Homo sapiens: one gene and its partner. The protein of the gene in region 1 interacts with the protein of each later gene in a pairwise test. Each region holds a gene or a part of one and is shown in the gene's direction. Other genes may lie near its edges.

What was found.
Region 2: the proteins of ERN1 (region 1) and SPATS1 interact in binary tests that used the Homo sapiens proteins (3 or more experiments, as listed by UniProt).

The regions. Positions count from the first base shown.
Region 1 is NC_000017.11:64,046,588-64,050,242, reverse strand, and holds part of ERN1 (serine/threonine-protein kinase/endoribonuclease IRE1 precursor), read left to right. Parts: intron 1-1,040; coding exon 1,041-1,188; intron 1,189-2,257; coding exon 2,258-2,385; intron 2,386-3,655. UniProt on the Homo sapiens protein: Serine/threonine-protein kinase and endoribonuclease that acts as a key sensor for the endoplasmic reticulum unfolded protein response (UPR).
Region 2 is NC_000006.12:44,363,105-44,366,759, forward strand, and holds part of SPATS1 (spermatogenesis-associated serine-rich protein 1), read left to right. Parts: intron 1-3,655.

The DNA.
Region 1 (3,655 bases):
CATGTTCCTCCTGTCCCGAATCCAGCACCTTCCTAAGGGAAAATCCAGTGAGGTAGAATAAAGCATGGTAGGTTTGGAGATTGGAAGACCTGAGTCCCATCCTGGTTTATCACATCCAGCAGTGACCCTGAGCTTGTCATGCAACCTTTCTGTCCACGTTCTCATCTGGGGATGAAAGCATTTGCTCTGCTCGCCTCACAAGGTTGTTGTGAGGCTGAATGAGAGTGCTGTGTTGTTCAAGGTGTGTCTCCTCCAGCATGGGAGGTGATGAGCCCCTGCTTCCTCACACTAGACCCTCACTTCACCTGGTGGAGAATCTCAGAGGCAGGGCCTACTAACAGGGACCCAAGCTGTGCTCAGGAACCACCTTGGTATTACACCCCAGGTAGCATGAGCTAAAAAACACAAACGTACATTTCCCTCGAAGGAAGCTATTCTGTAGACACAGAATGGTTTCATGGGATAAGTGAGAGGCTTTCTCGGATTAACATCAAACATGACCTCCTTGGTAACTTGTCAGATAGTTTCTTTCTAGGGCTGTTTTTGAATCATAAGCTGTTTTATTCACTTATTAGCAATTTTGATACCTACTGTGTGCAGGCACCATTCTGGGCCCTGGGGGTACAGCAGGGAAGCAACGACACAGAGACCCTGTCTGTGAGCACTTTCGTGTTGGGGGTAAGGAATATATAACAGCCAGGAGGGCTTTTGATGGGCCAAGCACTGTCGTAAGCAACCATTTTTGCATATTAATGCATCTCTTTTGACAACAGCCCCATGCTGTCAGTGTCCTCATCTCACATGAGAGGGAACCAGGGGCTTCCAGGTGGCTCCAAGCCCAGGTTCTCCACTGGGACCTCTGACACCCATGCAGTGCTGCAGGTTAGCCCTCGCTGCTCTGTGCAGCTCACATATGTCAGCTGATTCTCCCAGGACACCTTCTAGGTGGCAGAAGCAGCAGCAATGCTCCTCCCTCCCTGACTGTGAGTGAGGATGAAAACTCTGCTCCCAGACCTCTCACGCCTCATGTCTCTTTTCAGACCTACACGGTGGACATCTTTTCTGCAGGCTGCGTCTTTTACTACGTAATCTCTGAGGGCAGCCACCCTTTTGGCAAGTCCCTGCAGCGGCAGGCCAACATCCTCCTGGGTGCCTGCAGCCTTGACTGCTTGCACCCAGAGAAGCACGGTGAGCGGTCCAGGGGTTGGGGTTGGGAGCAGCTCCTCAGCTGCCTCAGGTGGCCCTGCAGAGCTGGGCTGGTGCCACCTTTGCACTCACAGAGGCCGTGGTGCCCCAGCTGCTCACCCCGCAGGCCTCAGGACCTCCAGACTTGTGCCAAATCTGGTAGAGGGTTGGTAGGGTTATCTCTGGGGCGCCACCTTCTAAAGCTGAGATGCTCCAAGGTTCCTCCAGGTCACCAACTACTTGTGTGACCTAGGCAAAGCCCCCTTTGGAGACCTTCTTTTTCTACCTGGTGACATGAGGGTTGAATAATCAGAGGTCCCTTCCTGCACTGGCATTTGGGAAGACAAATTGTCTTCTCTCTTGGGATGGCGAGTGGTCAGTAGGTGCAGTCTGTGCTGGGCTGGGGACAGACAAGCTTTATCCTCACCCTCCTGGTCTCCTGGTATGGGTGCAACAAGTCTTTCTTCCAGACTTCAGGTTTTCCTGGGTGGTAATTGGCCCATGACACTCCAGTGCTGCCTTTTGAAAAAATTACAACTAAATTATTGTTTTGTTTATGCTTAATTTTTCTTATTATAGAAAACACAGATTAGCATAAAGGCCCATATATTCCCATTATACAGGGATGAATGATGGCTATTGATACCTTTGCATATACGTTATTCCAGTCATTTATCTAGACGTGATTGCATATTTTATAAAAATACAGTTAAATCCTGCATACTGTTTTGCAGCATGCACGTTTTTCAGCGTCACCTTGAATCTCTCTCCACGTCAATCCATATTTAGTCACAGCCGCACTTTAACAGCTCATGGCCCAGCGTAGGGAGGCACCGTAGTGTATCCACTTGGGCCTCTGATACTGGATGTTTACAGTCACTTCCTTCACAAACCATGCAGTGAGGACTCACCTCTTTGGCTGAGGTTTTGTGTCTGTTCCTAATTATTTTATTGGAATAAATTCCTGTAAATAGAATCATAAATGAGAGGGTGTGCAGCTTTTTAAAGTTTTTGGTATTTCACTGTGGCTTTGGACTGGTAGTCATGAGTTGCTTATTTTCCTCCTTTATAGAAGACGTCATTGCACGTGAATTGATAGAGAAGATGATTGCGATGGATCCTCAGAAACGCCCCTCAGCGAAGCATGTGCTCAAACACCCGTTCTTCTGGAGCCTAGAGAAGCAGCTCCAGTTCTTCCAGGTAGAGACGTCTGTTCTCTTTATCCAGAGTCTTCATTTAATGTTTTTCAGATTTTGAAAATACAGAAAAGGACAAAGAATAAAATAAATTGCCCATTACCCTAAAACTGGAAGATAATCATGGCTGATGTTTTAATGTTTTCTTCATATATAAAAGTATAATTGGGATCTAACCGTATATACAGTTTCAGAATCCCTTTTTTTAACTGTACATGATATTTTAAGTTTCTTTCATGTTAAAGTTCTAAAATTCCAATGACCATAGTATTCTATCATATGGATGTGCCATAATGGTTAAGCTTTATATTATGGAATTTCCAAATATATAATACATAAATGTTTAAATGCTATAATGAGCACTCCTTTATTCATCCCTCAGGTTCAATAAATATTAACCTTCACCCTCTCCCCACCCCAGGTTATTTCGAAGTAAATCTCAGGCATCATATAATTTCATTCAAGTGTCATAAGCTTATTTATTTATTTTTATTTTTTTTGAGACAGCGTTTCACTCCGTTACCCAGGCTGGAGTACAGTGGTGCAATCTTGGCTCACTGCAACCTCTGCCTCCCGGGTTCAAGTGATTCTCCTGCCTCAGCTTCCTGAGTAGCTGGGATTACAGATATGCACCACCACGCCTGCCTAAGTTTTTTTGTATTTTTAGTAGAGATGGGGTTTCACCATGTTGGCCAGGCTGGTCTTGAACTCCGGACCTCAGGTGATCTGCCCGCCTCAGCCTCCCAAAGTGCTGGGATTACAGGCATGAGCCACCAGGCCCAGCCCAAGTGTCATAAATTTCAGTGCTTTCTTATATTGTATTTGTTTCTATCATCTTTTACACAGTCTTGGCCCAGATCTCCTTTTGCTTAAAATAGGTTCTGCAAAGTTAGAACTCCTTTGGTGATTTGACTGTTTTAAAGCTTTGTGACAATGTCAGGTGACTTTTGAAGAGGTAATGTGTTTTTCAAAGTCTTCCATGTATGAATTGAACATAACTCACCCGAACGCCTCCTGCCCAGCACGTGGCTCTGAAAGCAGGCTTGTGGGGCAGTGCTTTTCCCCTTGGGTCCAGGCAGAGTGCAGCTTGGTGGGCACCGTACTGAGAAGTGACCATCATGCTCTCCTGGGGTCTGACTGGGGCCTTGGCCAGAGGGAAGCCCCCAGAATGTAAGCTCCTCGAGGACAGGAGTGCTTGACTGCTGCATTCACTACTGTGTCCCTGCCTCCTAGGGAGGACGCTGCCTGGCCCAACCATTCAGATGGATCGGGTT
Region 2 (3,655 bases), on another chromosome or scaffold:
GGGATTACAGGCGTAAGCCACCGTGCCCAGCACTTTTTTTTTTTTTAAGACAAGGTCTTGCTCTGTGGCCCAGGCTGGAGTGCAGTGCCACCATCTTGGCTCACTGCAGTTCCGAATGCCAGCCCCCCAGCCCCAGGCTCAAGCAATCCTCTAACCTCAGCCTCTAAGTTGCTGGGACTAGAGGCATGTGCCACCATGCCCGGCTGATTTTTCTATTTTTAGTAGAGACAGGGTTTCTCCATGTTGCCCAGGCCAGTCTCAAACTCCTGGGCCCAAGCGATTAGCCGGCCTTGGCCTCTCAAAGTGCTGGTATTACAGGTGTGAGCCACTGCAGCCAGCCTACCCTGCACTCTTGAGCTGCAAGTACCTATCAAAAGTAAATGGGATTATCATAATGACCTAAATCTCAATCTTGACTTATCACTGCCCTCCTGGCTCAAAAGTAAACCACCTTATCCTGAATTTTATGTTTATGATTCTTCCCTCTCCTTTCCTTTCTTTTTCTTTCTTCTCCTTTCCTCTTCTTTTTCTTTCTTTCCTTCCTTCCTTCCCTCCTTCCCTCCTTCCTTCCTTCCCTCCTTCCCTCCTTCCTTCCTTCCCTCCTTCCTTCCTTTTTCCTTTCCTCCCTCCCTCTCTCCATCCTTTCATTTCTTCTTTCCCTTCTTCCTTTAGGGTTTTATAAATACTGAGTAAATGCAATGATATATTTATGAAACATTTGTTGACTATATAAAATGAAATATCACAAATACTTGCGTTCTTTTACTCCACTTAAGAAATAAAATTCTAACTTTATATTTGAAGGCTCCAATATCCTCTTCCCCGAATATTCCATCTTTCCTCCTCCAACTCCAGTGGTAACCCATATTTCATATTTTTTTAAAGAAAAACTTATTAGGTAAATTTTCAAACAATAGCAAAATGAAACCCGATGTACTCATCCACTTAGCTTCAATAATGATCAACACCTGGCTAACTTGTTTCATCATTACTCCTCCTCCCAGGGATTATTTCAAAGCAAATTTCAGACATCATATTATTTCATCTCTAAATATATCATATGTGCCTCTGATAGATAAGGATTATTTTATTAACATAACCACAATTCCATATCATAATATCATATTTTAAAAATTAACAGTAATTCCTTAATATAGTCAGTGTCCAAATATCCCATTGTCTCATAAATGCCACAATTTAAAAATATTTAGTTTGTTTGGATCAGGATCCAAGTAAGGCCCACAGATTGAAATTGGTTGGTATGTCTGTTAAGTTTCTTTCTCCCTCCTTTTTTCTTGCAATTTGTATGGTGAAGAAACTAGGCCTTATCCTGCAGTATTCACCATGATCAGGACTTTGCTGATTACATTGCTTGGTATCATTTAACAGGTTCCTCTTTCCTGTGTATTTCCTGTGAAGTGGTAGTTGGGTCTACAGGCTTGATTCGTTTTAGTATATGATTACTTCTTAGGTGATGTACAGTGACTTCTTTAAACATCAAACGCAATGGTCTTTTTCCATTTCTTCTCTTCCTTGATCTCACTGCAGCACTTGATACTGTCAAGCTTGACACTGGATACTTCTTCCTTTGTGAAATTCTCTCCCCACTCTTTCTTTCTTTTCTTTCTTTCTTTTTTTCTTTCTGTCTTTCTTTCTTTCTTTTTCTTTTTCTTCTTTTCTTTTCTCTTTCTTTCTTTCTTTCTTTTTTTTTTAGACAGAGTCTCGCTCTGTCACCCAGGCTGGAGTGCAGTAGCGTGACCTTGGCTCACTGCAACCTCCGCCCACTGAGTTCAAGCAATTCTCATGTCTCAGCCTCCTGGGATTACAGGCATGTGCCACCACTGCCGGCTAATTCTTGTCTTTTAGTAGAGACAGGGTTTCACCATGTTGGCCAGGCTGGTCTCCAACTCCTGACCTCAGATGATCCACCCGCCTCGGCCTCCCAAAGTGCTGGGATTACAGGTGTGAGCCACCACTCCTGGCCCCCACTCATTATTTCTTGGATGAGATGAAGTGGTAGGCTCAGGGACTGCCAACCAGCTGCCATTTTAAACTGGAATGCAACGCATTATTATATCAAAAAATCAATCAAAATATCTTTAAATAATGGTTGACTGTTATCCATCAGCCATAACCAGGATATTGGTGGAGTTCCCTAAAGGCCTAGCTGTTGCCACAGAACAAAATGCCATCTATGATTGTAGGTGGTAGGGAAATAGATCTGAAAATACAATTTTCTATTGTGTAGCTCTTCCCACAGTACAGCATATTGTATTAGTCAGAATAGGATAGATTCTGCCGCAGTAACAGTCCCTGAAATCTCTGCAGCTTAAGCACTAAAGTTTGCTCCTTTCTCTTGTAAAGTCCACTGTGGATCCAGCAGCTCTCCAGGACAGCTCCTTTCCAAGGATGCTGTCTGCTTTTATCTGTGACCTTTCCATCTCAACCTGTGGCTTCTAAGATTGCCATAGAAGGGTAAAGAGAAAATGCTGGAAGGTTTTTCACATCAGCTCCTTAAATGCTTCTTTTTAAAGTGGCACATATCATCTCTGCTCACAATCTATCAGTCAGAACATGGCTCTACCTAAACGCATCGGGGCACTGAAATGTGGGGCAGAGTAAGTTATTTGGTGAACGGTTCGCTCCCTTATATGGTTATTTGTCTCTAAATGTATGTTTCCCATTTTCTACCTCCTGAATGTCTACATCCAGGAAATTGGATGGTCTGTCTAAAAACAAACAAGCATTAGAACTGATCATGCAGTGTTATGGGTCCATCAGCTATTGATACATAGTGGCCAGCCCTTTGGGCTGATACCTGTTTTGGTGAGATATCCAGAAATTATACCAAGGCCCCATATTGTACTTAATAGCTTAAACAAACATGTTATCTCAGAAGTGTTGTTTGGGAGATTTTCCCCCTAAAAGTAACACCTTATACTGACATCACACCATTGCCTCTTTTTCTTCCTCCTGACATTATCTTGTGATATCTTTTACCATAGTCTATATATATATATATATTTTTTTTTTTTTTGAGACAGAGTTTCGCTCTTGTTGCCCAGGCTGGAGTGCAATGGTGCGATCTCGGCTCACTGCAATCTCTGCCTCCCAGGTTCAAGCGATTCTCCTGCCTCAGCCTCCTGAGTAGCTGGGATTACAGGCATGTGCCACCATGCCCAGCTAATTTTGTATTTTTAGTGGAGACGGGATTTCACCATGTTGATCAGGCTGGTCTTGAACTCCTGATGTCAGGTGATCCACCTGCCTCGGCCTCCCAAAGTGCTGGGATTACAAGCATGAGCCACTGCGCCTGGCCACCATAGTCTATTTCTAGGTGTTCTCCTTAGACCACCTATATCATAATCAACTGGAAAGTTTATAAAAATTACTGGTTCTGGGAACTATTAGAGATCTTCTGAAACAGAATTTCTTGGGTTAAAGGCTGCATTTTAAACAAGTTTCCTAGGTGATTTTCAGGTGTGCTAAAATTTTGGAACCACTGTTCTATAGTATATGGCATTTACTGCTTTGTAGTGTTACCTTCGTCTTTACATATGTCTCCCTATCTAGATAAGATTCCCTGGGGAGAAATTTATACCTCAGCTATATAGCAATCGTATCCTCCAGATTAAAAAATAATTGGGATGAGGGG